Linked DNA regions of Homo sapiens. The protein of the gene in region 1 interacts with the protein of each later gene in a pairwise test. Each region holds a gene or a part of one and is shown in the gene's direction. Other genes may lie near its edges. The genes, in order: ATXN7, GOLGA3, TXNDC11, ITPRID2, MEGF6, FBN1 and MEGF8.

The links.
Region 2: the proteins of ATXN7 (region 1) and GOLGA3 interact in a two-hybrid assay, tested with the Homo sapiens proteins (one study listed by BioGRID and IntAct).
Region 3: the proteins of ATXN7 (region 1) and TXNDC11 interact in a two-hybrid assay, tested with the Homo sapiens proteins (one study listed by BioGRID and IntAct).
Region 4: the proteins of ATXN7 (region 1) and ITPRID2 interact in a two-hybrid assay, tested with the Homo sapiens proteins (one study listed by BioGRID and IntAct).
Region 5: the proteins of ATXN7 (region 1) and MEGF6 interact in a two-hybrid assay, tested with the Homo sapiens proteins (one study listed by BioGRID and IntAct).
Region 6: the proteins of ATXN7 (region 1) and FBN1 interact in a two-hybrid assay, tested with the Homo sapiens proteins (one study listed by BioGRID and IntAct).
Region 7: the proteins of ATXN7 (region 1) and MEGF8 interact in a two-hybrid assay, tested with the Homo sapiens proteins (one study listed by BioGRID and IntAct).

The regions. Positions count from the first base shown.
Region 1 is NC_000003.12:63,978,867-63,983,156, forward strand, and holds part of ATXN7 (ataxin-7), read left to right. Parts: intron 1-1,048; coding exon 1,049-1,301; intron 1,302-3,319; coding exon 3,320-3,579; intron 3,580-4,072; coding exon 4,073-4,155; intron 4,156-4,290. UniProt on the Homo sapiens protein: Acts as a component of the SAGA (aka STAGA) transcription coactivator-HAT complex. Mediates the interaction of SAGA complex with the CRX and is involved in CRX-dependent gene activation.
Region 2 is NC_000012.12:132,818,323-132,822,612, reverse strand, and holds part of GOLGA3 (golgin subfamily A member 3), read left to right. Parts: intron 1-301; 5' UTR 302-484; coding exon 485-617; intron 618-4,290. UniProt on the Homo sapiens protein: Golgi auto-antigen; probably involved in maintaining Golgi structure.
Region 3 is NC_000016.10:11,680,677-11,684,103, reverse strand, and holds part of TXNDC11 (thioredoxin domain-containing protein 11), read left to right. Parts: intron 1-3,427. UniProt on the Homo sapiens protein: May act as a redox regulator involved in DUOX proteins folding. The interaction with DUOX1 and DUOX2 suggest that it belongs to a multiprotein complex constituting the thyroid H(2)O(2) generating system.
Region 4 is NC_000002.12:181,901,540-181,905,829, forward strand, and holds part of ITPRID2 (protein ITPRID2), read left to right. Parts: intron 1-226; coding exon 227-927; intron 928-4,290.
Region 5 is NC_000001.11:3,503,322-3,507,611, reverse strand, and holds part of MEGF6 (multiple epidermal growth factor-like domains protein 6 isoform 1 precursor), read left to right. Parts: intron 1-1,375; coding exon 1,376-1,504; intron 1,505-2,055; coding exon 2,056-2,190; intron 2,191-2,269; coding exon 2,270-2,404; intron 2,405-4,290.
Region 6 is NC_000015.10:48,635,502-48,639,791, reverse strand, and holds part of FBN1 (fibrillin-1 isoform a preproprotein), read left to right. Parts: intron 1-4,290.
Region 7 is NC_000019.10:42,373,578-42,377,867, forward strand, and holds part of MEGF8 (multiple epidermal growth factor-like domains protein 8 isoform 1 precursor), read left to right. Parts: intron 1-1,929; coding exon 1,930-3,198; 3' UTR 3,199-4,290. UniProt on the Homo sapiens protein: Acts as a negative regulator of hedgehog signaling.

The DNA.
Region 1 (4,290 bases):
CCATTGAAGTCTTACTTGTGGTCATTGATCATCATGTGCTTAATGTTTTAAATACTTATATAGCTCCTGTATTGTGATAAGGCAGTGTTGGATCACATGCATTTTAAAACTTAGAGTTAAGCAAATGTGTAATTTTAAATTAATTAATTAAAGGCAGCCACTAAGGTACTCAAGCGGATAAAGTTACCAAATGATTTACTTGTTTCTGATGGTAACATTCTTCAACAGCTCTTGATTTATATTAGTATGGATTACCTTACTCTAAGAAAACCTGATTCTCCAGTGGATAGATTTATTTTCAGCTAAACCTTTGTAGTCTGTACTTAACCATGAATTACTTCCTGGTTTAAAAAACAGGCGTAGCTATTTGTGGTATTTTTGTCTTGCGCCTTTGGCATCTTAGCGGTGTGAACCGGAGCTATGCCATCTGTAGTCAAGTGAGATTATTAAAAAAGGGGGGGTGGGAAGTGAAATGATTCACTGGAAAATTTCAGCACAGATTCTTAGGGAACGATAAGATAACCCTAGAAACATTCTTATTTGGTGTCATCTGCTGGTGGGTAGTGACAGGGAAAAAAAAGAAGGTACAACTTGTTTCTTAAGATTTTGCTATTTTGAAAATCAGAGAGGTGCGGTGTTAGAAAGGAAGAAAGAATTGCTTGCAGTGTCATTTAGCAGAGCTCTGCAGATGAATGAATAATTTTCCTCTCTCTTAATGCAAGTTGGAGCCAATGAGGTTCATTTTTAGCACGCAAAACCCAAAAGGCAATATTCTCATGTTTACGATGGTTGTCTAATTTCCTGATGGGTGTATGTGATAAAACTCTTTATGCTGAGATACTTCAGAAAGAGAAGGACCCGTTCCTAGAATGCTAAGTAAGTCTGTGGGGCCTAGATGAGCCATTTCTGAAGTCTGCTGAGTTTAACATACCTTCACTTAACGACACGTGTTTTAACCTGAATATATTGATTTCAGGGAATTCTTCCAGAATTACATTTGAGATTCGCCTAAAACATGATGTCTTTTTTTCTTTGCTTTCGTTTTCAGAAAGAAGACATAGCTCATCCAGCAAGCCGCCTTTGGCCGTTCCTCCCACTTCAGTATTTTCCTTCTTCCCTTCTCTGTCCAAAAGCAAAGGAGGCAGTGCAAGTGGAAGCAACCGTTCTTCCAGTGGAGGTGTTCTTAGCGCATCCTCATCAAGTTCCAAGTTGTTGAAATCACCCAAAGAGAAACTGCAGCTCAGGGGGAACACCAGGCCAATGCATCCCATTCAGCAAAGTAGAGTTCCCCATGGTAGAATGTGAGTATGGCCAAGAGGGTTTTTAAAGCTTACCTGCTGGAAATGAAACTGTGTACACTAGTGGCATGTGAGAGTGCCTGTGAGTAATATAAAAGAGAGTCTACTTGGGGAAGAATTCAAATGTATGTTGTATTGTTTCTTGATGTTTCCCTGTCATGTCATAGGAAACTTTTCAGAGTAGTAATAGCAGTGATAATAAGGTTACTAACATTTATTGATCCATTCTTGTGTGCTAGCTACTGAAACCTAACTCTATGTGTGTACTATGTCACTTATCACAACAACCCTATGGAATAGGTACTGTTACTATCCTCGTTTTCCAGATGAGGAGAAGGAAGCTTCGTGAGGTGGGGGAGTTTTGTCCAAAAAGGCCTCAAGTCACATAGGCCTGGATTTGTGTCCCATTTCTGTCACTTCTTAGCTGTAGGGGTTTGGGCAAGGCACTGTTTCTGTCTAAGAATAACAGCCACTATGCTGGGTTATTGAGAATATTTTAGTTAATATATGTCTAGCACCTGGCATAGTGTCTGGCCATAGGGGACGGTTAACAAATGGATACTGGCACTCCTGCTACTGCTGCTGTGGATAATAGTAATGATAAAAAGATGCAGAGATTCCCAGATGCTGCTGTAGAATTTTTGGGGGTCTACGGAGCAAATAGGGAAGCAGTGCTTCCTCCCTTCAGCCTTAGGTTCACATCACAGCAGTGATGAGGGAAGACTGAAGGAAGTTCACACCTGCCAGGCATGGCTTTGGCAAGTTTCCATGGTCACTCAGTAGATTGACAGGTTTCTTGAGGTCACGTGAGGGAGCAGCCACGCACTCCAATAGGAACATGCTTCGCCTTGTCATGGCATCCCTCAGCCTGGTGACGGATGGCTTTTCTTGGGCCAGCCTGCTTTTGGAGGGTATAGCACACATCGTAGGTCCAAGATCCGGTAACCTGGTTAATCTCAGGGTAGGGTCCAGCACCTGCTGCTGCATAAGGACCTTGCCAGCTGGGAGAGGATGTGACATCTTGCAGTCTCTCTACTGCTGTCAGGCTATTCCAGGTACAGTTGTTTGGGGCTGTTTGTCCTGGTTGCTAAGCCCCCAGCCCCTGTTCTTCTGTCAGAAGTACAGTACAGCAAGCTTGGTTTTTGTTCCGGGAGCAGTCTGAAAGCCACAAACGGTGCCAGTGTAGTGTGTAAGTCACTGGCCAGCTTAACAGCTGTTAGAGCACTGACTCCACTGAACAAAGTTTATACAACCTCATTGATTCAAATCTTCTTTACTTAGAGCTAGGCCTTTAGATAGGAACCAGGCCAGTTGTTAGCTTCCTACCAGTATTTTCAGTTTTACCAAGCAAAATGATAGTGTCAGTAAGATTCCAAGATTCATATCTTTGTTAATGGCACAGGTATTCCCTAAGCTCCTGTCATAGAAACATTTTTCAAGGACTGGAGAATTACCACTTTAGTGACACAACATATATTTATTAAACACTAGTCTCCCTTATTGACAGAAGCAAAGAACCTCTTCTTGGAGATATGTTATTTAGCATGTTTGAGTTCTCATAAGTCTTTAGTGACATTTATTGGAAATATTTGCTCACTCAGAAGTTTACTTTGTTTTGATGAATCCTTTCGTACAAATGGCAGTCCTCAAAAGATATTCTCCAAGGGTTCTGCAAATAGTCTTTGTTTCTTTTAGACCTTCTCATGTTTTGCTTCTTATAGAAATTGCATTGCATTGGGTATCAGGTCTGAGTTTCCCATTGCCTCATGTGTAAAATTTTTTGAAATGATGAAAGACCAGGCAAATTTGATGGTCCACTGAGGGTTTTGCCTCACCAGAAGGGCTTATAGACTTAATCAGTATGAACCTTACTAACAAAACTCATAAGGAGCCTTCCAAGAGGCTGGCCCTGTGCAGCGCTTGGGTAGGCCCAGGCTCTATCCTCATCCCTCTGGCTCACCATTCACCTGGGGGCTGCTGAGGCACTCAGGCACTGGTTTTCTCACTTCCTCCTGTGACAGCATGACACCCTCTGTGAAAGTGGAAAAGATTCATCCGAAAATGGATGGCACACTACTGAAATCTGCGGTGGGGCCAACCTGTCCTGCTACTGTGAGTTCCTTAGTCAAGCCTGGCCTTAACTGCCCCTCAATACCAAAGCCAACCTTGCCTTCACCTGGACAGATTCTGAATGGCAAAGGGCTTCCTGCACCGCCCACTCTGGAAAAGAAACCTGAAGACAATTCCAATAATAGGAAATTTTTAAATAAGAGATTATCAGGTAACTTCAAATTTTCTTTCTTCATAATGCTTCTCTATATATTAAATGGGCATTCGTGGGGAGCAAATCAACTGCAATCTAGAATTCCTATTTTTAAAACTGGTCAACTTCAGCTTTAGGAGGAAGTTCCTTAGTTAATATGTTTGTTCTTTTCACTCTTGGGTTTTAAAGAGCATGAGTGTGTGTGTGTGTGTGTGTGTGTGTGTGTGTGTGTCATGTAAAAGTAGCTTTCTAGTGGTGTATTTCTGAAGGAAGTAATACAGACTTAAACAATATCTTTTCTACCATCTGATGGCAGTAGTCACCCCCTGTCTTAGTGATGTTGCTGCTTTGTTGCAGCACTCACACGTTGTATATTTTTTATTTTATTGATAATGTGGCTTTTATTCCAGCTATAATTTATCTAACTGTTGATTTCTTCTATTTTCTTGCTTAAAAAATACATGGAGGAGAGTTTGTCAGGCCACATGTAATGCCTGTGTTCTTTTGACAGAAAGAGAGTTTGATCCTGACATCCACTGTGGGGTTATTGATCTCGACACCAAGAAGCCCTGCACCCGGTCTTTGACATGCAAGGTAGGTGGACTCCTGAAAGTCAAGTCGACCATCCTGATAAACATGGGTGACTGGGATGTACCACACTACTCCCACAGTCTCTCTAACCCAGAGAAGATGCTCTGTGGATTGTTGTGAATTGTGTAGGTGAAGGAA
Region 2 (4,290 bases), on another chromosome or scaffold:
GCTCAGTTGCCCTGTGTGACACCTACTCCACAGATTCAGAGCTGCGCTGTCCCAGCAGAATGTTCTTTAGTTGGCACCGATACAGACATTAAGCTCCTTCAGGAAAGGGCCCAGTGTGGCTGGGTCAGCATCTTAGCCTCAAAACCTAGGATGTTGTGGGTGCTCCAGGATTATTTGCTGAATGAAAAAGTTTGTATTTGTTTCTTGTACGTATGCAAATTGGGAACCAAATGCTAATTTTGTAATTGATACTTGAAATCTGACAAGTTTCATAATACATTTTGTCTCTCTCTCCTGTCAGGTATCATGATATTAGCTGGTTTGACATCAAGTCATTTGTGAGTCATCAGATCTTCTCCTGAAAATGGGAGACACAGTAGGGCCCCTCCCAGGAGCTCTTGGCTGTTGCTGATGGCAGAAGCCAAGCTTGTCCAAGGTTCACTTGTAGCCCCTCAGCGTCAGCTCAGCTGGTGTCGTCCTGACCATGGACGGCGCGTCGGCCGAGCAAGATGGCCTCCAGGAGGACAGATCCCACAGTGGCCCCTCGTCTCTCCCCGAGGCCCCACTGAAGCCCCCGGGCCCACTGGTGCCACCTGACCAGCAGGACAAAGTCCAGTGTAAGTCGTGAGGTTCCTCTGTGTGCTGGTCACAGGAGGACCTGGTGTTGAGGGAGGACGTGGTGTTGAGGGAGGATGTGGCGTTGAGACCACTGTGAGCTTTTCACTTAATTCAAAGTTGTTTTTTTTTTTTTTTTTTTTTGAGACGGAGTCTCGCTCTTTCGCCCAGGCTGGACTGCAGTGGCGTGATCTCGGCTCGCTGCAAGCTCCGCCTCCCGGGTTCATGCCATTCTCTTGCCCCAGCCTCCTGAGTAGCTGGGATTACAGGCGCCCGCCACCGCGCCCGGCTAATTTTTTGTATTTTTAGTAGAGACGGGGTTTCACCGTGTTAGCCAAGATGGTCTCGATCTCCTGACTTCGTGATCCGCCCGCCTCAGCCTCAGCCTCAAAGTGCTGGGATTACAGGTGTGAGCCACTGTGCCCGGCCCAAAGTATGTTTTAGTAACTGAATGATGCCACCTTTAGATCAGGCACATTCCTGCTAAACAGAACTCCATTAAACGTGTGGGGCAGCAGCAGTGTTTCCCTGAAGGGATCTATGGGTCTTTATCATGTTCCCTGCCTAAAATTCTACCTTTTTTTTTTTTCGACGTGGAGTTTTGCTCTGGGTGCCCGGGCTGGAGTGCAATGGCGAGATCTCGTTTCACTGCAACCTCCACTTCCCGGGTTCAAGCAATTCTTCTGCCTCAGCCTCCCGAGTAGCTGGGATTACAGGCATGCGCTACCACGCCCAGCTATTTTTTGTATTTTTAGTAGAGATGAGGTTTCTCCATGTTGGTCAGGCTGGCCACGAACTCCCAACCTCAGGTGATCCGCCCACCTTGGCATCCCAAAGTGCTGAGATTACAGGCGTGAGCCACTGCGCCCAGCCATTTTTTTTTTTTTTTTTTTTTTTTGAGACGGTGTCCTGTTCTGTCGCCCAGGCTGGAGTGCAGTGGCACCATCTCAGCTCACTGCAACCTCTGCCTCCTGGGTTCAAGCGATTCTCCTGCTTCAGCCTCCCGAGTAGCTGGGACTACAGGCACCTGCCACCACACCCAGCTATTTTTTGTATTTTTAGTAGAGACGGGGTTTCACCATGTTGGCCAGGCTGGTCTCGAACTCCTGATCTCAAATGATCCACCCACCTCAGCCCCAAAAAGTGCTGGGATTACAGGAGTGAGCCACTGTGCCTGGCCGAATTCTGCCTTTTTGATTGGTCAGTTGCTGAATTTGTAATAGCTAGAATTCAGAAGTCGTCCCGTAGAGATCTAAGGATTACGGAGCACAGTGTTATGTTAGCCCCCTGGGTTATTCACGTGTCAGAGGGAAAGGGTGACTTAGTTATTCACTCAGTTCTCATGCCTCTTCCTGGCCAGGAGGTTCAGTGCTTTAAAACTGTAGACTACAGATGTGCTAATTTACTAGCAGAAGTCACAGTCTAATTCCTGTAAAATGATACTCAGGCGCTTAGGATGGCTTTGCTGGTCCTTGCTACATAAGCATCAGGTGAGGCAGATAACAACTTAGAGGCCCAAGATCAAGAGTTCTGAGACCCGCGGCCGTGGAACCTGCTCTTAGATCTGCTGCTCAGGAGCAATGTGCCCTCGAGCAAGACGCTGGGTTAATCTCAGCCTCCGCCCCTTTTTCTATTTTAAACATTTTATTACTGTTTTTAGAGTCAGGGTGTTGCTCCATTGAGCAGGCTGAAGTGCAGTGGTGTAATCATAGCTCACGGCAGCCATGAACTCCTGGGCTTAAGTGATCCTCCTGCCTTGGTCTCTGGGGTAGCGGTGACTATCGATGCGTGTCAGCACGCCTAGCTGATTTTTTTTTTTTTGAGACGGAGTTTTGCTGTTGTTGTCCAGGCTGTAGTGCAATGGTGCGATCTCGGCTCATGGCAACCTCCGCCTCCCGGGTTCAAGCGATCTTCTGCCTCAGCCTCCTGAGTAGCTGGGATTACAGGCATGTGCCACCACGCCCAGCTAATTTTGTATTTTTAGTAGAGATGGAGTTTCCATGTTGATCAGGCTGGTTTTGAACTCCCAATCTCTGGTGATCCCCCCACCTTGGCCTCCCAAAGTGCTGGGATTGCAGGCGTGAGCCACCGCGCCCTGTTGCCTGGCTCATTTTAAAAACTTTTTGTATAAACAGTCTTGCTGTTGCCCGGGCTGGTCTTGAATTCCTGGCCTTGAGTTATCCTTCCACCTCGGCCTCCCAAAGTGCTGGGATTACAGGTGTGAGCCACTGCGCCCGGCCTAACCCAGTAACTTTTATCTGAAATGCAAGGTTCCCCCTCTCCCAGCAGTGGAGCTCACGGGTCCTTTGCATGAAAGGCGTCTCAGTGCGTTGGTCGGGTGCCCGTGGTCTGGCTTCCTGTCTGGCACCCCTGCTTTTATTCTGGTTTTTCTTTCGGGAGGCATGACAGTAAGTATCTGCTGTTAGTTTGAACTCACATTTGCAAGTGAAAGAAACCTTTTCTTTTTTTGAGACGGAGTCTCGCTCTGTTGCCCAGACTGGAGTGCAGTGGCACGACCTCAGCTTACTGCAAGCTCCACTTCGAGGGTTCACGCCATTCTTCTGCCTCAGCCTCCCAAGTAGCTGGGACTATAGGCGCCCGCCACCACGCCCAGCTAAGTCTTTGTATTTTTAGTAGAGACGGGGTTTCGCCGTGTTAGCCAGGATAGTCTCGATCTCCTGACCTCGTGATCCACCTGCCTCAGCTTCCCAAAGTGCTGGGATTACAGGCGTGAGCCACCGCGCCCGGCTAAGAAACTCATTTTTAATTTGCTTGAGCAAAAAGCAAATTTGCTGTCCTGCATGCACGTGGGATCCGAGGAATGCTGACCCCTGTGAGACACGGAGGTGTTGCCGGGCCTCCAGAGCCACCGGAACCAGGACCAGAACCCCCTGAGGACCCTCCCTCCCCCCTCACATGTCTTGGTTCTTTGACTGTGAACTGGCCCACCCACCAGTCAGCAGTTAGGGGGCAGGGAAAAGACTGAAAATCACTTCATTGAAAGAAATCTTTCTTTGTTCCATTTGATGAGGAAATATGTTTTAGTTTGTGTTGTGGGTAATTTGTATATAATCATTTTAGTGGGTGAACTGAGGTAACACGTGGGTATAGAATTGTCACTGGTCCAACCCAGGCCTTTACCCAGCAGGCTGTCATCAAGCAGAAGCGCGGTTCTGGGCTGTCTCTGCTTCACGGGTGGTGTGATGACATCATCCACCTCTTCGCCTTAGGGTCCTCGCCTTGGAGGATAAGCTGAGGCTTTGAAATGACTCCAAAATCAGCCTTTGTAAATGTGAGGCTGTGACTCTGATTAACACTGCTGTTACCAGTGCCTGCTAGAAAGATTGTCAGCTGTGTTTTAAGTGTTTGTGGTTTTCGCTTGTTTTAAACTGGCGACTTTCATAAGATTTCTTATTGGTTTTACTTAAATGGAAAGGAAACATTGGCTGGGTGCGGTGGCTCACGCCTGTAATCCCAGCACTGTGGGAGGCCGAGGCTGGTGAATGGGGAGGAGTTTGAGACCAGACTGGCCAACATGGTGAAACCCCATCTCTACTAAAAAGACCAAAAATTAGCCAGGTGTGGTGGTGGGCACCTGTAATCCCAGCTACTGGGGAGGCTGAAGCAGGAGAATCGCTTGAATCTGGTGAGTGGAGCTTGCAGTGAGCTGAGCTT
Region 3 (3,427 bases), on another chromosome or scaffold:
AAATGGGTTTAAGATGTAAATCATTCATTATGTTCAAAAAATGTTCCCTTAGGAACCAGGCGTGGTGGCTCATGCCTGTAATCCCAGCACTTTGGGAGGCTGAGGCAGGCAGATTGCTTGAGCTCAAGAGGTTGAGACCAGCCTGGCCGACATGGTGAAACCCCATCAGTACAAAAAATACAAAAATTAGCCAGGCATGGTGACATATGCTTGTAATCCCAGCTACTCTGAGGCTGAGGCACGAGAATCTCTTGAACCTGGGATGCGGAGGTTGCAGTGAGCCAAGATCACACCACTGCACTCCAACCTGGGTGACAGAGCGAGGCTCTGCCTCAAAAAAAAAAAAAAAAAAAAAGTGTCCTTAGGGACATAAAAGGGTTGTAGTGTCAGGATGTTATGTGTGGTATGGATCTTTTAAAGGTTGTTTTTCCCAGTCTATCTCTTACCCGAGCTTGAATGTGGCCGTGAGAATTCTTAGCTTTCATGGCCTGTATGAACATATGGAGGACGCAGAGACTGACAGGATTCTTCTGTTGCCCTGGCTGGAGTGCAGTGGTGCAATGTTTGTGTGGGGCAAAACAGCAGAGAATCTGTGGAGCCCTGCCTGCCCCAAGCCTTCCACTTGCTTGTCTCTCAGTTGGCCTCCCAGCAGCTCCTCATCCCTCTCGTACAGAGGACAGGGTGGCTTTCTTACCCATGGCACGTCCTTTTCTCGGATTCCAGGAGGCCTACAAAGGGGTTTTCTCCCATGCGTGCAGACTGCTGTGAACGTCCGCCATGGGATGGTCGCTTGATTTTTTCACACTTGCCTAATCAGTATTCCAGGTGCAGTTCTTAACGGCAACTACCCCGGAAGCCCCTGCAAGCAGGACATTAACAAGGGGGAGCGGACTTCCAGTTAGTAAACGTAGATGCAGATGTTTTAGTGGAAAAAGAAATTAACTCTTGGTCCTTTAGAGCCTAATACACTGGATGTTTGCTCCCTTTTTATAGATTCCCTTTGGTTTTTAGAAAGTTGAGTCCTTTTGGGGACCCACTCACATGACTTTGACAGTATCTTCTCTCCAGGGGAAAGTGTCTGCAGCATCATTTAGGGAGTTCCCTGGCTCGCATGTATGACGTTTGCTGTTTTAATTTCCTGCCTCCCTTTTGCGATTCAGCTTGTCATGTTTCTCTAGGAGAGTGTTTCCTTCATATCTATTGAATCATTCCCTTGGTTTTTGCTTTGTATCTCAAAGAATTTTTGCGGGAGTACTTCTGTGGTAGTAGGGTCTTGTCACATCATGCACTAAAAACAGAATGTGACTCACCCTTTTCTACTGCTGACTGAGTTGTGATGAGGCTTTTTCTTTCTAAGAAGTGTTTAAATTACCACATAGTCCAGGAATCACGGACAGTAACACTAACACTTTCATCTGTGTGGGCCAGGAGTTGGGCATGTAGTTTAATGACGTATAATTTTTGAATTCCAAGCATAGTTTGAAAAAATATGAAAATCTTAGCACCCAGCACATGCCTTTTAATGAAGAAGTTCTCAGCAGCTGGCAGAAATGCATCTGTGTAGAGAGACACAGGCGGAACAGGTGGCAGGGTGGGGCGTCATCTGGAGGCCTGCGTCTGGGCTGAGTGACCTTCGTTCTTAGGCTGCCTGGTGTGGGAAACGTGAAGATGTGCGCATTTCTCCGGCCCCATGCTGGGCACTTGCTGCAGGCCCTTACCCTTGTCGTTTCTAAATATCGAACATAAGAAGACTGTCCACTTCTCTTTTAATGTAAGGATGTTGGTAAACCAAAGCTTTATGGCTTTGGAATGGAATTTTTCTCATTTCCTAAAAATAAATGGTAGAAGTAAAGTATGCTCATCATGAGCTGGTCCCAAGCGAGTGTTTGGTTTAGCCAGAAGGTAAATGGGCAAGCAGCGTGAGCTGACAGCTTGCAAAAGAGGAAATGAAAAAGGCTGTTGGATAACATGTAGTAAGACCTTTTTCATTGTCCACCTGCTTATGCTATTTTTAGTGAAAAGAATATGAAATTGTATATTTACTGTGATAAAATATAAACTTGTGCATGTGCTAGGTGGAGATGTTCACAGAGGGGAAAATGTTGAGGTGTTAACATTGATGACTTCAGAGGAGTGAGATTGCAAGTGATTTGAAGGTGCTGCTTGTATGTTTTTACATCCCTTGCAAATTGTCTACAAAGAGCATGTCTTGATTTATAAAAATCATGAAGGAAAAAAATGCAAGAGCCTGTCCTTGGGAGGAAGAGGAAGGGGTGGGGCCTTGAGGGAGACATAGCCTTCCTGTGCAGAGGCATCTTGGAGCCACTTGCTCCACCGAGCAGGTGCTCCTCCAGCCAGCACTTGCGTCAGACTCTGTGTGACATTGCAAAATATAGGTGCTCTGGCCTGGCCCTGGGCCAGGGTGATGAGGGGGAGATGGGTGCTCCTGTCCACCAAGAGACTCTGATGTGTCCCAGGGGAAGAATCACAGTTTTTTAGAGGTGTGCCCTGCCACTCCCTCAGGGTTAGAGGAGAGTTGCATAGACATGGGGACCTCTTCCCACCATAGTTTCACATGACTGCTTTCCTGGAAGTAGACTGTTGACATTCTCTGTCCCTGCTACTTTCACAAAGTGTGGCAGTATTTTAGTGTGCCCATTAGGGACATTGATGGAGAGTGCACCAAGACCTCTTAGTTAGCAGATAGCATGCTCACGGATGTCACTGTCCTGTAAATGTCTGGAGGTAGACATCCTGAGGGATCTTGGCAGCTTTTTCTGGGAAGTAATTCACGTTTACTCTGCCTTACAAGACCAGGCTTGTGCCGCAGAACGTGGGGGCAGGTCCAGCGTCTGGTATTCTTCCATGGGCCCACTTGACAGGGCCACGATGTGTTTTCAGTTGTTGTGGGGTTTTTTGGTTTTCTGTTTTTGAGACAAGGTCTGACTCTGTTGCCCAGGCTGGAGTGCAGTGGTGCAATTACGGCTCACTGCAGTCTTGAACTCCTGGACTCAAGTGATCCTCCCACCTCAGGCTCCTAAGTAGCTGGATCTACAGGTGTGTGCCACCTTGCCTGGCTAATTTTTTTATCTTACTTTTTATACAGATGAGGCCTTACTATATTGTCCAGGCTGGTCTCAAACTCCTGGCCTCAAGCGATCCTCCCACCTCAGCCTCCCAAAGCACTGGGATTACAGGCACACAGCACCACACCCAGCTTTGTCATTTGAATGGCTGGGCCCCACTTGAAGAAAGCTTATATGTTAAGAAAACTAAGCTTTAAAGGAGGGGATGGTTGAATGTTTACCCCAAAATTATAAAACAATTTACGGCCGGGTCCAGTGGCCCTGGGCAGCCAGGCTCTGGAGTCCCTGCTGTTGACTTCCATTCTGTTAACACCTGAGGGAGACAAACTCGGCTGCCGGCC
Region 4 (4,290 bases), on another chromosome or scaffold:
CTGATTTTTTAAAAATACAAATTCTAGTGCTTAGAGTAAAAATCTTGCTCCTTCCCACCCAGTGAATGTAGAGAAGGTTTAAGTGTTAGATGAGGAAAAAATAGGGTTTTATAATCTTTGTGATCTAAGTGTAGTTTTTGGAATTCTAAACAATAATATGCATTTAATATATGTGTATGTATATATATAAATATAAACATATCATTAATATTGTTTCTTTTGGTAGGCCGTTTTCGTCAAATTGAAGTGCTTACTACTGTGGCCAATGCGTTTTCTTCTTTATATTCTCAAGTCTCCGGGACGCCCCTGCAGAGAATTGGAAGTATGTCCTCAGTGACCTCTAACAAGGAGACAGACCCACCTCCACCTTTAACTCGAAGTAACACTGCAAATCGTTTAATGAAAACACTCTCAAAACTGAATTTATGTGTTGATAAAACAGAGAAAGGAGAAAGTAGTAGTCCTTCTCCATCAGCTGAAAAAGGAAAGATTCTAAATGTTTCAGTGATTGAAGAAAGTGGCAATAAAAACGATCAAAAGTCTCAAAAAATTATGAAGAAGAAAGAGTCATCTTCTATGTTGGCTACAGTTAAAGAAGAAGTCTCTGGTAGTTCAGCAGCTGTTACGGAGAATGCTGATAGTGATAGAATTTCTGATGAAGCAAATAGTAATTTTAACCAAGGAACTGAAAATGAACAAAGTAAAGAAACTCAAAGTCATGAGAGTAAACTGGGTGAGGAATCTGGTATTGTAGAATCCAAATTAGATAGTGATTTCAACATATCCAGCCACAGTGAGCTGGAAAATAGCAGTGAGCTGAAAAGTGTCCATATATCCACACCTGAAAAAGAGCCTTGTGCACCACTGACAATACCATCCATAAGAAATATAATGACACAGCAGAAGGACTCCTTCGAAATGGAAGAGGTAGGTAAAAAATTACTGAGACTGGTTTCAAGTTGCAGACTAGGAAAAAAAGTACCAAAAATGCTTATAAAATGAGAGGTAGCTAATAGATTTATACTAGAAAAATTTATTCTAATTTTGACTTTCCAGGTTTATGTTTCACAAACCAAGAATTGGTCTCAGGATAATGTGATGTCGAGGTAATGGGACAGTTCAGTAACTCCTCCAGATCTTTATCCACTAGTTGATATTTGAACCTTAACCCTCTTTTCTCTCTCAAGGGTAAGATTTTGATGCTCAAGAAAGCCCTGAGAGAGTATATTTAAATTCAAAGCAATATTGCATAATAGTTAGAAACACAGGCTTTGAAATCAAACAGGGCTTTGAGTTTTGTCTGCCACTGAATGACTGTATGCCTTTGGGCAAGCTTTTCTTAACATATCTCAGTGGTAAGGATATGTGAAGGCGGCTTTGGGGATAGTTCTTGTTATATGACTGGAAAGAACATGAAGATATTACGTACCTGCATGGGGAGGATAGGGACCCTAGAATTAGCAGGTTTGAAAGGCCACTGAATAGGGTTTCTGCAAGCCCAAAAGACCAATGTTTGGTTACTTGTTATTTGTGTCCAGTAATATACCTGATAGTTAACATAAATTTTTAATTGGAAAAGATAAAAGATACTTATTTTGAATGAGGTTCAGCTAAAACTGCTTCTGAATAGTAGGAGCTGAATAGCTTGGGGCAGGAAAACTGATTTTACCAAGCATCTACCCTGTGCTGGGCACTGTTCTTGGCTCTTGAAGTACTTCATTGCAGTCTGTGAGGCACATGGTAGTGGTCTCATTTTATACATGAGGAAACTGAGGCATATGTATGCTAATGAAGAGTTGTGGCTATAAATTATATAATGCGCAATTTGTCTTTTGTAATTTATTACATTAGATGCGTTTTAGTAATAGTTCACAGTAGTTTTAACATCACACACCATTATTTTAGGGAATTAGAAAATGAAATAATTGATTCAGCTCATAAATGTCCTCTTAGGTGAGTGTCTCTCTCTCTTGCTCCCTCCCTCCCTCCCTCAGATTAGTGAAGATTTTTCATTTATTGTAAAATTTCAGTTGCTGATACAGATTTTTGCCTTTTTGTGGTCTGTTAATACTTTAATTACAACTGAATAGTGAAATAAAAAGGGAGTAGGAGCAGCACCTTGGAATATTTTACATTTTGAGCTTTTTTTCTTTTATTTCTTTGTATATGTTTATATTTCTTCTATCTTTTTACCTCCTGGTATAATTTATTTCTCATCGTAATGAGTATGGAAGATGACTGTGATGACTACATTAAAACCTCTGTTTGTTCTTTTTCACTCTGATAACTTTTTGACTTTGTTTTGGTCTAAACTTGTTCCAGCACTCATAATTAAAGTGTAAATTTTTGCCTACCATTAGGGCCCTCTTCTATGACAATTAGATATGGCAGTTAATTTCCTTGTTTAATACAATAGCAGAGCATAAAGATCTAAACAAATTATGTTAGGTAATTGCAAATCTGATATTGGCGACTCCGAGTGAACAACACTCATATTTTCAAGTAAGTCACTCTTCAAAGAAGTCAAGGAAGTTTATTTTTAATTTCTAAAATTCCTGAATTCTAAGCTGTAGTTTTTAAAATTTTTTAAGATGCCATACACAAAAGGTTTTTTAAACACTTATAAAGTGCTAGATGTACTTTTGTGGCAAGTTAACCTTTAATGATAGTCTGGGGGTTTTTTGCCCCCTCTACTGGCAAAAAAGGTTAATGAAGAAAGCAATGTAGCATTGACGTGAACATTTTTTTGAAGTACAAGATTACATGCATTGGTGGAAGAATAATGGGAGATTTTTTTTTTAAATGAATTTATGGTCGACCACAGCTACATTGTAAATATGGGGAATTTTAAAGAAAATAATGTATCTTCAGATATATTTAAAATATGGATAAAAACCTCCTGGAAGTGTGTTTTCATCCCTAAGGGAACATTAAAGAGAGCTTGTAGAACAATGGATAAAGGAAATAATGTGTTAACTTTAATTTCCTCTTCTCCCAAACACTTGAATCATATTGACAAATGAAGAGAACAATCTTATTGAAACTGACTTTTAGATCCTATTCAGTGTAGTTTGTTGCTATTTTTCTTTTGGACCTCTTTCCATGAGGTTTGATTCTTGCTGGGAATTTTCTTCTTGTGAAAACCATGAGTAAATATAAGTTAGAGCTCCCTCTGTCTCAGTAAATCAGTTCTCAGAAACATTATCTGAGCATGAGCTGCTTTAGGAAGCTAGGAAGGAGAAAATGTTGCAGATATGTTGACTGCATGAAGCTGCCTAATCCATCTGAGACAAGAGGTAAGATCCAACAGTCACCAGAAGCAAAGAGACAAAATACTTAAATGTAAAGAGAGCTAAATAGATGATGAGACTGCTCCTGGCCTGGTACAATGAAGTGTCTGTTTCTTATGTTAGAAAAGGAAAAGGCCAGAGACTTTCAGTTAAAAGTCAACTTGCCTTATAAAGTGTCTTGTAGACTGTTTAAAATAGTTATGAATGTTTATAACGATGTTTTTTCTTTTTTTTTTTTTTTTGAGACGGAGTCGCGCATTGTCACCCGGGAGTGCAGTGGTGCAATCTTGGCTAACTGCAACGTCTGCCTCCTGGGTTCATGTAATTCTCCTGCCTCAGCTTCCTGAGTAGCTGGGATTACAGGCACATACCACCACAGCCAGCTAATTTTTTGTATTTTTAGTAGAGATGGGGTTTCACTACGTTGGCCAGGCTGGTCTCAAACTCCTGACCTCGTGATCTGACCACCTCGGCCTCCCAAAATGCTGGGATTACAGGTGTGAGCCACCACACCCAGCCTATAACTATTTATAAAAAGTTATTAAATCCTGTTCTTGAATTTCTAATTATTCCAAATGACTTGCTTCATTAATTCTTGTGTTCTTCTTGAATGGCTTATTTTGAATACGTCATGGTAACTCTCTGAAGCCATAGATTAGTAGTGTGAATGATTCACAAGTTAAACCAAAATGATCCTTCTCAAGCAGATGTTCATCTTTTAGATGTAAAGGAAAAACTTAAGAAGGAGAACTTTTATCTCAGCATTTCTGTAAGAAGTTGACTGTGTGGTCTTCTTGACCTTTAAATGAATTTTTATTTAAATATAACCATTATTGGATATACACATAATCTTTTTTAAGCTACTGATGTGTTAGTAACTGTTTCTAATCCTGTCTTCATACTAATTATTGATTTAACTAATGTACTTGACTTCTCATTTTTAGCTGTTAAGTTTTAGGATTTTTCTATGTTTATTGGTCTGAGTTAAAATAATCCCACA
Region 5 (4,290 bases), on another chromosome or scaffold:
GAGAGAGAATGAGGCCCTTGAATGAGAGGGGTATTGCTTTTTCACTGTTGCTAATTTTCCCAGGGCCTAACTGTAGCAGACGATAAGACTACAGAGCAGCACTTTTGGAATGGGTTCCCTTGAGAGGCAGTGAGGTCCCTGTTCCTGGAAGCATTCAAGTAGAGCTGGTGATGGCTGGGTGAGGTTTGCAGAAGGGATTACTTGGGGGCCAGTGGCTGCAAGGGATGATGTTGGCTCCCTTATTAACTCTGAAGTTTCAGCCTTTCTGGAGGAATTAGTCCAGAAAATGTTTCCCAGGTGGCTAAAGCTTCATCTTTAAGTCTTCAGACTTCATCATTTCTGCCTCTTTCGATGGAGAGTGCAGCTAACGTATCATAAACTTTCTGCCTTTGTGAGAGGAAGACAGCCAACCCTAGAACCTGTCCCCCAGGTGGCCCCGTGAGCTTTCCTGGCCGTATGTGCTGGGCTCTGCAGGGCTGGTTGCCTGGTGGTGGTGGGGACCCCAGGCAGCCACACAGGGCTTCCTACCTCTTCCCTGTCAGTGTGCCTCCCTTCCCCACTTTGTCTGCCCTTTCTATTCTACAGGGTGCTGGGGAACCCCCGTATTCATTCCTGGGTGCTGCACCCCTGGGATCGTGCTGTACCCTCCAGGCTGCCTGCAGCGTTGAGGGGTCACCTCCCCTTCTCCAGGCCTCCTCTTTCTGTCTCGGCTTCCGCCTGCCTCTCAGATGAGGATGTTTGTCTTTGGATTCAGGGCCAGCCTGGATAATGTAGGGCTACTATGGCAAGCACTGTTGCAAGAAATGCAACTGTGCCTAGTCTCCAGGTCCTGGGGACTAGGACGTGTATGTAGTTGTGGGGGTACCTTCAGCTGACTACCGCCTTCAGTAGGAGGAAGGACGTGGGGCAGGACCCAGCCAGAGAGAATTGTTTGGGGAAGAAAGGCGAGGACCTTTCTAGCTCTGGGGCCACCTGCGGCTTGGGCCTGGGACCTTGTCTACTGGGGCCACGTGTCCTTCCCGCTTTGAGGCTCTGAGATCAAGCTTAGTGACCACCAGGGGACAGAAGTCAGGCGGCTCCTGATGGGGGCCAGACTTTGGGGAGAGTGGGGCGTGAGCTTTGTGCATCTCTCCAGTGTGGGCCGAGGAATGTGCTCTTCCACCCGCCCTTGCCACAAACCCTGGGGGCAGGGGATGTAGGGGACAGACCAGCCAGGGCAGACGGCCACATCCGGAAGGCTCACCTAGTGCCCTGGCGGGGGCTGCTCCCAGCTCCTGTGCTGGGCCCTGGGCCCCCGCGCATCCTACCACATGGGGGGACCACATGTGGTAGGCTGGCTGCCACCAAGGTTCACATGGAGCCCCGCTGCCCCCAGGCTGCCCCAAGGGCTACTATGGCAAGCACTGTCGCAAGAAATGCAACTGTGCCAACCGGGGCCGGTGCCACCGCCTCTACGGGGCCTGCCTCTGCGACCCAGGGCTCTACGGCCGCTTCTGCCACCTCAGTGAGTCTCACTGCCCCTTCCAGTGTCCATGGTGGTGGCAGCGGGTGGAAGGGATGGTCCATGTCCTGTTACCTGTAGTCTGGGTTAGGATGAGGCTATCGGGGCCCAGCCAGGTCACCCACTGGGATGTAGGTCTGGGGTCCGCCATGAGTCTGTGGACTCCAAGCCACATCCTCTCGACTGTGACTGTGCTGGCATCCAGGGCGTCTGGGTGGATGGTCCCCAACCTTGTGCCTCCCAGCCTTGATGGGTGGTAGGGCTGCAGATGAGGGCAGGGCCAGGCCTTTTGCAGAAGCCTCCGGGGGATGAGGCCTATCTTGGCTTTTGGAGATTCCTGGCAGCAAGGCCAAGCTCTGAGTCCCTGGTGGGGTCACCCATCCCTGGGGTTCAGACACTCAGGGAAGGGGCGGTGGGCTGCAGGGGGAGAGGTGGAGGAGGACAGCTCCCTACATGATCTTGGCTGTCGTCCTGGCTGACCCAGGGCTGGTGGAAGCGGTCTGGGAGGGTGGGGCTTCAGACGGGAGCCCCCCTCAACGGTTCTGTGGGTGCAGCCTGCCCGCCGTGGGCCTTTGGGCCGGGCTGCTCGGAGGAGTGCCAGTGTGTGCAGCCCCACACGCAGTCCTGTGACAAGAGGGATGGCAGCTGCTCCTGCAAGGCTGGCTTCCGGGGCGAGCGCTGTCAGGCAGGTGAGTCCAGGCATGGGGTCTGGGGGCGGGGGGCGCCAGGGTCGGTTAACCCCACCCACCCCTCTCTCACGCCCTGCAGAGTGTGAGCTGGGCTACTTTGGGCCGGGGTGCTGGCAGGCATGCACCTGCCCAGTGGGCGTGGCCTGTGACTCCGTGAGCGGCGAGTGTGGGAAGCGGTGTCCTGCTGGCTTCCAGGGAGAGGACTGTGGCCAAGGTGAGTGGCCGGCCCCTGGGGCTCCCGGCAGTCTCATTGTGGGGTGTAGGCTGCCTGCCTGGCTGGAGGGTAGGCTTCAGAAGGGCTGCACAGCTGTCACTATCGGCCCCCTTTGCCTAAGCCCAGGTGGTGCCTTGCTACCGGTGTTGCCTTGCTACCGGTGTTGCCTTGACGGCCTGTCACATGGCAGTGGTGCGGCTGCTAGTCTCAGTCTGGTCTGCTCAGGGCAGCAGCTGCTGTCTGCCCAGGGCCTGACCTGGGGAGGGGCCAGTTTCTCTCCAAACTCCTCCCTGGTCCACTTGCTTCTTGCTTGACCAGAACAGACTGGGCTTCTCTCAGAGGCCGGGGCAGCAGCTCCCTCCTCACATGTGAGCCGGCAGCAGAGGCTGCCCCTGGAGGTGGCGGTTCAGAGAGTGGTCTGGGTGCAGTGCCGGCCTGGGGTCGTGGCTGCAGGCCCCTGCACGTGGATGCTTTGGCCTGGGTGTGAGCAGGCACAGAGCCTGGGAGCCCCATGCCCACATAGCAGGCAGGGGAGGAGGCTGTTAGGAGCTGGCTGAGAGATGGACCAGCGGAGTCCATGCTTAGGTATTCCTGGGAGACCCGGGGACCAACTGCCCGACGCGATTCCAGCCCAGCGTGCGTGGGGCTGGGGGCTTTGCCAAGAGGGCTGGGAAGGTGGGGGTGTCCTGGCTGCCCCAGCTTGCACTGGCGGGAGGTGCAATAACCAGGACAACGGTGTGTGGTCCTGGCCAAGCAGAAAGCTGACCAAGCTGGTCTGAGGCTCAGCGGGATGGTCACTCCTCAGTCTCATGACCAGGATAGGAAATACCCGAGTGTGTCATCGGCTTATGAGGGGAAGGAAGACGCCCTCGGCATGAGTAATGGAGCTGCCGCAGCGGCCGCCAACAGGGCCTGGGCAGGTCGGAGCCTCCCTTGGCATGGCGCACGCTGTCCACGCCCATTGGCCGGGAGAGACGGGAGCCACGAGGGCCTGCTGTGTGACCAGCATGACCATGGCCTGGGCTGGAGAGAGCGAGAAGCCCGGCGCCAGCCCCCTCCTCTGCCTCCCCTGGGGCCAGCCCCCTCCTCTGCCTCCCCTGGGGCCATACCAGGGGGCTCTCTGGACTCAAGCCCCCCCAGCATGGGCCCTTCCCCTCCCCACCTCCATCTGGGGAATGAGAAGGGGTCCGCAGAGGGAGCAACGTCCACCCAAGGACCCACTAGCCAGCTCTTAGGCCACCCTGGCCTCAGCCACTAAGGGCCGGAGCACTCTAGGCCAAGACTCCTGACCTGGACTGGCAGAAGCTCTGTGGTCTCAGGCCGGTGTGCAGCAGCTCTGAGCGCCCACTTCCCATCTGTGCACAAGCCCTAGGGCTTCATCAGTGCGCGGACATGGGACTCAGCTCCTCCTGACTCCCCAGCATCCCCTCCCCACCCTTCCTCCCGCTCCCCACCCCCAAACGTGTACACACATACATGCACACACCACTTACACACACATACACACATACATGCACACACTGCTTACACACACATACACATGAATGCAGGCAGGTGCATGCAGACACACACCAGCAGCTCACCCTCCCCTGATGCCTGTGACCCTCCTTCCAGTCCCTGCTCTCTATACCAGAGACAGTGAACAGGCCTCGCCAGAGAAGCACCTCCACCACTCCCGGAGCCCCCAGTTCCTGAGAGGAGGAAGGCTCCTCCCCTGCCCCTCCTCTGCTCCTCCTCTGCCCCTTCCCCTCTTTTCTTTAAGAGCCTGTGGTGCTCCGAGGATAAGCCACAGGCGATGACATCCGAGTGTTGATAGAAAGATCAACACTCTTTATAAAGATAACATCCCCTCTTGTTGGGTCTGGAAACTGTTCCTGCCCAGCACT
Region 6 (4,290 bases), on another chromosome or scaffold:
AGCAACTTAGAATTTTTTCCCATGAGATTCTTTGAAGAAACCGACATCAATAATATATCAGGCCTGAGTTATGTGGCCTAACTCAGGCACATGATAGTTTAGCGTTTCATGATTGTTCAAGTCGATTTTCTCATTAGATAGTTAAATCATTGAAGACAAGAATCCTATTATAAGCATTTTACCACTAACTCATCATTAAGTGGGGTTTCAGAAAGTTCATTAATTCAGGAAGTCTTGATTGAATGCTAGCTTGAGTTTAGTTCTGTGGAAGGCCAGAGACATATACCCCATAACCCTGGGGGTACTTCAGGAACCGTGAGTGCACAGAAGGACAGCGTCCCTGGAAAGGGGGTCTGGTATTAAGTCTAAACAAATACATAATAACAATTGCAGCCATGGTAGGTAACATTTAGGTAACATCTATATGTTACTAAGCACTATATGTTGCTAAGCACTGTTCTTACTGTTTTGCATATGATAATTCATTGAATCCTCATAGCCACTCTACAAGCTGGGTGCTTTCATAAGCTTCCCTTCACAGATGTGAGAGCCGAGGTATGCAGAGGTTAAGTTCTAAAGACAAAACTTAACGTTAACTTTTCTTTCTCCATTAATTTTAGTTATGGTTTTGGTTTTTCATTCCACCAGACAAAAATGCAGGCCCAAGACATTGGTAAAATTCCACTTAAAATTCCTAATATTCTTTCATGCTAGTTCACAAATCCTAAGTATGGTTAATCACACAGTATTATTTAGTCCAACAAGAAACTTTCTGCAAAGACATTAATAAAACAGAAAGAATCATAGGATGTTAGAGCCAGTGGGACTTTGGACAGCGTATTATATTTTAATATTAGACCTTGACTTGTGTGAGGGTGGTAGGTAACCATTGCAGGCAGCCTGCTGGGCGTTGTGTGGGCTTCTGAGCTGGAGGCATTGCTGTTTATGTTGTTCAGAACCCTCTTGCTGTCATGTCCCCTGTGAGAAATCTCTCTGAATAGGGTTGCAAGAAGTATTTCTCTTTCCAGTGGAAATTGGTATGTGTCTTAAATCACGACCAGTCATATGAGTTATTTAATTATTTCTTTTTCATTTTTTAACCTTGGTTGCCTGTAAACTCAGCCCAATTTTTTACATTAAATTGCAGCCATAATGGTAAAAAAAAAAAAAAAAAGCTCTGATGTATCACTTATGATTGTACTTTGCAAATACTAATTCCTTTAAAACATAAATCCTTTATGAGGAAAATTAAGCTTATTTATTCATTTAACAAATGAAGAAACAAGGGATGCAGAGTTTCAGTAATTACTCCAGGGACATAAACTAGTAAGTGGTAGAGTTGGAAAATCTAGCTTCATAGCTGGAGCTCTTAATCTTAATATTTTACTGCTTTACAGTTATAATAAATCTTGTAGCTGGTAAATTTTTTTCTTTCATACCTTTTATACCTTCGTTTCCCAAGAATCTTCTCCCACCATTGCTATGTGGAAAGACTCAACATTTATTGATGGCAGATGCTGTTACAAGCCAAGGGAAGCATCATTGTGGGAATGGGATTGATCAGAAGTGACTTTACAGTGAAAGTCTATTAGGGCTGGGCATGGTGGCTCATTCCTGTAATCCCAGTGCTTTGGGAGGCTGAGGCAGGAGGATCACTTGAGCCCAGAGGGTTGAGGCTGCAGTGAGCTATGATCATGCCACTGCACTCTAGCCTGGGCGACAGAACAAGATCCTGTCTTAAAAAAAAAAAAAAAGTTTATCAGTGGTCAACAAACTGAAGACCAAGCTCACTTTTTTTGAAAATAGAGTTTTATTGAAACAAATCCATGCCTGTTTATTTACTTATTATGTATGGCTGCTTTCTCCCTACAGCAGCAGAGTGGAGTAGTTGCAACAGAGACAGTATGGCCCATAAAACTGAAACATTTGCTCTTTGGTCCTTTACAGAAAAAGTTTAACAACCTCTGATCTACGTGATAAAAAGTGACTGTCTACTAGGAGTGAGAACTCCTTGAAGGCAGAGATCTTGCTTGTTTTATTTATCTCTAGGAACATCTAGGAACTGGGTATGCGGCACATGTTCAATAGAATAGTTTTTGATAGTTGAACTCTGAGCAATTTTGATGAGCTGATTAACTGGGTATGGTTAATTATATAGACTAGAGCTTGGAGTAAGTATAGCTGAGAAATAAAGGAAAGATGAGTGAAAAATACATCAAGGGAAAGGGATATGAAGTGTCTGAGGTCTTAGGACATTGACTGCAGTTGGGCAGGGTTGGCACGGCATGGTTCCAAGTGACATGGTTTGTAGTGCAGTCTATGAAACGAGTGCCCTCTGGAGCTGTGCAGTTTGCAACCTTGAGCAATCTTGTGAGCCCGTACATAGGTGGCAATGTTGTTAGGGAAAGGAGAGGGACTAGTGGAAATATAAATGTCACTGATGTTGTGAAAGGCAAGGACGGGGAGCTAGTAAAGGATTCTAAGATAGGAACATGATCAGATCTTTGCCACTGGGTAGAGGTGTGAAGGGTAGATGATTAGAGAGAAGAGAGACTAAAGACAGGGAGATTTGGATTTAGGAGGCTAATATAGGAGTCACAGTGAGAGTCCACGATGGTCTGAGCAAATTCAGTGAAAGGGGTGAAGAAAGAAGAGACTCAGGTGGTTCCAGAGTTAATGCAGACAGTACTTGACTAGTTGGTTGTGAAAGACAAAGGCGAGGAGGACCTAGAATGCTCCCACCTCCATATATATTCAAACTTACCATACACGAAGTCATTGTAGCACCATAAAGAGAAAATAAAGGGAAACGAGATCAGGCCTAGGCCCTCTACTACCATGAAACAAAGTATTTTCATTTGTGAGTGTTTGAGTTATTTTATTGCTACGTAACAAATTGCCCCAGACTTCGTGGCTTAAAACAACAATTTTATTCTTTCTCATGATTCTGTGGCTCAGGAATTTAGACAGGACACAGTGGGGAATCTTGTCTCTGCGCCCCACAATGTCAGTTGGGCTGGAACAGGCAGTATGACTTCTTCACATATGCATCTGGTTCTGTGACCAGGCACTGGCGCCTGCAGCCCTGTTTACTTGGGTGTGGTTTATCTAAATGGACCCACTGAGGAGGGGAATAAAGGAAGCAAAGAGCCACTTGTCTGGCTCTGCTGGGGGCCTTCCAAGTTTTAAAGCTGTCTCTCATGCAGTCTCCTGCCTGAACCTGCCCCCGGGATGGAGCCATTGAATGTGTTTTTTTTCAAATGGGGAGACTGAGCCCCAGATGCAGCGACTAGGCCTTGCTCAGAGTGAGTGTCTGTTGGGGCTGGATCTTGAACAACAGCCTCCTGACCCTGGTCACATGTGTTAATCCCACATATTGACCGTAGGCTAACTCGAAGGGCTGGGGGCTGGCTGGCTGGGGTCACATGGACTCATATGTCCTCGACATTGCCTGGCTTCCTTGATTCTCCTTTATATAGTCTCAGGTTGTCCCCTTTCTATACGTGGCCTCTCTACATGGTCTTTAGAGCAGCATAGCCAGACTTTTTCCATGGCAGTTCAGGATCTCTCAAGAGCACAAAAGTGGGAACTACCAGACTTTCTTCAAACTTAGCCTGGAATCGCATGACCTGGAATTCCATCCAAGTCATAGGCCTCATCCAGATTGAAGGGCATGGACTATTAAGACCTACCTTTGGATGTGAGGAGCATCATGTGTCTGCTGGGAGGGGAGAAAGTGGAGCCATCTTTGGAGACCAGCTACCACTGTGAGGCAATAGATCTTTGAGAAGGCTAATCAGATACTTTAAGTTTTAATTCTAACTTGATCAAGTTCAGTTGGCTTAGTTCTCTACTGAGGATGCCTCATTGTATTTTGCTGCTGTAACTTCAGAATGAAAAAGCTCCATAAATATTGTGTTTGCATGTTCTGTTAGATTCATGTTAGGGCATTGATCTTAGTTTGTCCACAGTTCTGCATTTAAAGAACTCACAACTGTCAGGAATAAAATGAAAGTTCCTAATGAAGCAGTATGTTTTGTTTTATTCAAATATGAGAATTTCAAAACATCTAACCATTTTCCATTTGCTTTTAAGAAAATCAGCTTTTAAGATTATACATGAAATAAATTTAATGGGCAATCACTCTAATTTATTAACTTTGGTATGTTTTAACTTTCTTCTGTATGGAATTTTATTTTCAATTTCTATTTATAGCCTCAAATGTATGTATCTGTTGGTGTAATCCACCTCAATTTTTTAAATTAGGGGTTATACTAATAAGTAAAAATA
Region 7 (4,290 bases), on another chromosome or scaffold:
AGAGATGGGGTTTTAACCATGTTGCCCAGGCTAGTCTTGAACTCCTGAGCTCAAGCAATCCACTCACCTTGGCTTCTCAAAGTGTTGGGATTCTAGGCGTGAGCCACCGTGCCTGGTTGGGCTTTTGGGTTTTTTTTTTTTTTTTTTTTTTTTTGATACAGGGCTTACTCTGTCACCCAGGCTAGAGTATAATGGCGCAATCATAGTTCACTGCAGCCTTGAACTCCTGAGCTCAAGTGATCCTCCTGCCTCAGCCTCCTGAGTAACTGTAACTATAGGCACACACCACCATGCCTGGCTAATTTTAAAAAAATTTTAAAGACGGGGGTCTTACTATGTTGCCCAGACTGGTCTCGAACTCCTGGGCTCAAGCGGCACTCCTGCCTCAGCCTCCTGAAGCACTGGGATTACAGGCATGAGTCACTGCGTCTGTTTTCTCTTGGTTCTAATAGTGATTGCAGTAATAACTAGAATGCCAGGAGCGCCTGCCACAGAGCTGGATGCTGTGCTGTGTAGACAGTGGTGACAGCATAGATATGAAAGGCTTTGCAAGACTGTGCTGGGGCCTCAGTGGGGTACAGACTTAAGAGGAAGACAGATTCAGAGACATTAAATGTCCTAGCTGGGCACAGTGGCTCATGCCAGCACTTTGAGAGGCTGAGGCGGGCAGATCACTTAAGGTCAGGAGTTCGAGACCAGCCTGGCCAACATGGTGAAACCCCTTCTCTACTAAAAATACAAAAATTAGTTGGGTGTGGTGGCGGACACCTGTAATCCCAACTACTCGGGAGGCTGAGGCAGGAGAATCGCTTGAACCCGGGAGGCAGAGGTTGCAGTGAGCCGATATCACACCACTGCACTCCAGCCTGGGCAACAGAGCGAGACTCTGTCTCAAAAAAAAAAAAAAAAAAAAAAGTCTCACCCCAGATCAGGTGGTCAGTTAGGCTTGGTGCCTGGAGTGACCCTGGTCTGATCTCAGAACTTGAGTGGTTTCCACTAAGCCACAGGAATCATAGCCGTTATCTATCCAGCCACACATTCATTCAGCACACAGTCATTGAGCACCTAGTATATGGCAAGCACCGTGCAGGTTGCTGGGGACACAGTAGGGAACAAAGCAGGCAAATGTTCTGTCTTTAGGAGTTTGCATTCTCATGGAGGCATCAGAAATGAACAAACAAGTCAGATGCTCGTGTGTTAGACAGCGAGGAGCGCTAAGGAAAGTTAAGTAGGAAGCGGGGGCTAGGGCTGTTGGGGAGTGGGAATGGTAGACGCAGGACACAGTGGCCAGGGAAGGCCTAGGTGAGAAGGAGGCTCTTGAGCAAAGATCTGAAGGAGGCAAGGGGGCTTGACAAGCTGACAAGTGACAGGAGAACCATGCAGGCAGAGGGTCCGCCAGTGCAAAGGCCCCAGGGTGGGAGGGCGCCTGGCACAGTATAGAAGAAGCATCCAGGCAGGCAGGCGAGGCTGGCTGACCCTGCGCCGAGTGCCATGCACATGATCTCAGTGGTCCTGTGAGCGAGCCGTGGTTACTCCCTGTGTGCAGAGCTCATGGGTTAAGTCTGTGTGCTCAGGCTCAGTGAGGTTAAGTCACTAGTCCAAGGCCACACAGCTAACAAGGAGGTAGAGCCAGAATGCAGCCGCGTTCTTCACTGCTGTGCCTCAGAGTGCCAGAGGCCTCAGTATCAGGGTGCTCAGGTCACTAGGGTGGCACCAGGGGCAGCAGTGCTGGAGTGCCAGGTCCTGGCAAGGTCTACACTGTGGCAGAGAAGGTCCGGGGGGTCACAGGGAAGTGACTGGGGCAGTGGGGGTGAGGCCCAGGGCAATGGCTACTTAGCAGTGGGTATAGAGTATTCGTCACTGCTGCTTGGGGGACAGGCTGGCACCGCACTCAGCCCTGATGGTCACCGCCTCTAACCCTGCCCGCAGTGCGCCAAGTGCCGGGAATCATTTCACGGGAGTCCGCTGGGCGGCCAGCAGTGCTACCGCCTCATCTCGGTGGAGCAGGAGTGCTGCCTGGACCCCACGTCCCAGACCAACTGCTTCCATGAGCCCAAACGCCGGGCGCTAGGCCCCGGCCGCACTGTCCTCTTTGGCGTGCAGCCCAAATTCACCAACGTGGACATCCGCCTGACGCTGGACGTGACCTTCGGGGCCGTGGACCTCTATGTCTCCACCTCCTATGACACCTTCGTGGTCCGTGTGGCCCCTGACACTGGCGTCCATACTGTACACATCCAGCCACCCCCAGCCCCACCACCTCCACCACCCCCTGCAGATGGTGGGCCCCGGGGGGCTGGGGATCCAGGAGGAGCAGGGGCCAGCAGTGGGCCGGGCGCCCCAGCAGAGCCACGGGTACGGGAGGTATGGCCGCGGGGCCTGATTACCTACGTGACGGTGACGGAGCCGTCGGCAGTGCTGGTGGTCCGCGGCGTGCGGGACCGGCTGGTCATCACCTACCCACACGAGCACCATGCCCTCAAGTCGAGCCGCTTCTACCTGCTGCTGCTGGGCGTGGGAGACCCAAGTGGGCCCGGCGCCAACGGCTCAGCCGACTCGCAGGGCCTGCTCTTCTTCCGGCAGGACCAGGCCCACATTGACCTGTTTGTCTTCTTCTCCGTCTTCTTCTCCTGCTTCTTCCTCTTCCTCTCACTCTGTGTGCTCCTCTGGAAGGCCAAGCAGGCTCTGGACCAGCGGCAGGAGCAGCGCCGGCACTTGCAGGAGATGACCAAGATGGCCAGCCGCCCCTTCGCCAAGGTCACCGTCTGCTTCCCACCTGACCCTACTGCCCCGGCCTCCGCCTGGAAGCCGGCTGGGCTCCCACCTCCCGCCTTCCGCCGCTCTGAGCCCTTCCTGGCACCCCTGCTGCTGACAGGGGCCGGTGGGCCCTGGGGACCCATGGGAGGGGGCTGCTGCCCACCAGCCATCCCCGCCACCACTGCTGGGCTGCGAGCTGGGCCCATCACTCTCGAGCCCACAGAAGATGGCATGGCTGGCGTGGCCACACTGCTGCTCCAGCTGCCTGGCGGGCCCCATGCACCCAACGGCGCCTGCCTGGGGTCAGCCCTCGTCACACTGCGGCACAGGCTGCACGAGTACTGTGGGGGTGGTGGGGGTGCTGGGGGCAGTGGGCATGGGACTGGTGCGGGCCGGAAGGGACTGTTGAGCCAGGACAACCTCACCAGCATGTCCCTCTGACATGCCCAGGGTTCTCATCCACAGCAGCTGGGTCACCTGATAGGGCCGCCCTGGACTTGGGGTCCCTCCACCTGGGGGCCCCTGGACACTGTCTACTTGGAGACCACTGGCCCCCTTCCCCCAGGGTTGCCCAGATGGGGCCTCCTTTGTTCTGCATTCAGCAGCTATTTATCGAGTACCTACTCTGTCAGGCACTGTCATAGGCGTGGGGCAAAGCAGGAACCAAGAGACGAGGTTCCCTGATCTCATGGGACTTAGGTTCTGGTGAAGGGAGACAATCAGTGCACATGCACACACCCCACACGCATACACACATGAACACATGCACATGTGCACACACAAGTAAGATGGCTTCAGAGAGGGAGAAGCACTGTGAGGCCTCCAGAGGATGTGGCAGTGAGGGACGATGGGGTGAAGTCAGCTGGGCATTCAAAGAAGCTAGACTGAGAACGCCTGAGAAGAACCAGCTACGGGAAGAGCTTTGGGAAGCAAAGGCAGAGGCCCTGGGGTGGGAGCAGGCTTGTTTTATTGGAAGGACCAGAAAACTGGTAAGTGTGACCCAGATCAAGTGTGAGGAGATGAGGCTGGGGATAGTCAGGGGCTGGATCACCCAGGGCCTTGTGGGCCCCACATAGGGTTTTGGGTTTTATTCTCAGGGCAATGGGAAGCTGTTGGATGGTTTGATGAAGGGGAGTGACAGGATCCGATGTACCTATTTAAGAATTTAAGAGGGTCGGGTGCGGTGGCTCATGCCTATAATCCTAGCACTTTGAGAGGCCAAGGTGGGCTGATCACAAGGTCAAGAGTTCGTGACCAGCCTGGCCAATATGGTGAAACCCCATGTCTACTAAAAATACAAAAATTAGCTGGGCATGGTGGCACACACTTGTAGTCCGAGCTACTCGGGAGGCTGAGGCAGAAGAATCGCTTGAACCCAGGAGGCGGAGGTTGCAGTGAGCTCAGATTGCGTCACTGCACTCCAACCTGGGTGACAGAGCGAGACTCCACCTCAAAAAAAAAAAAAAAATTTAAGAGGTCACTCAGTTGTGCTGTGGAGAATGGACCGGAGGGACAAGAGGGGCAGCAGGGATG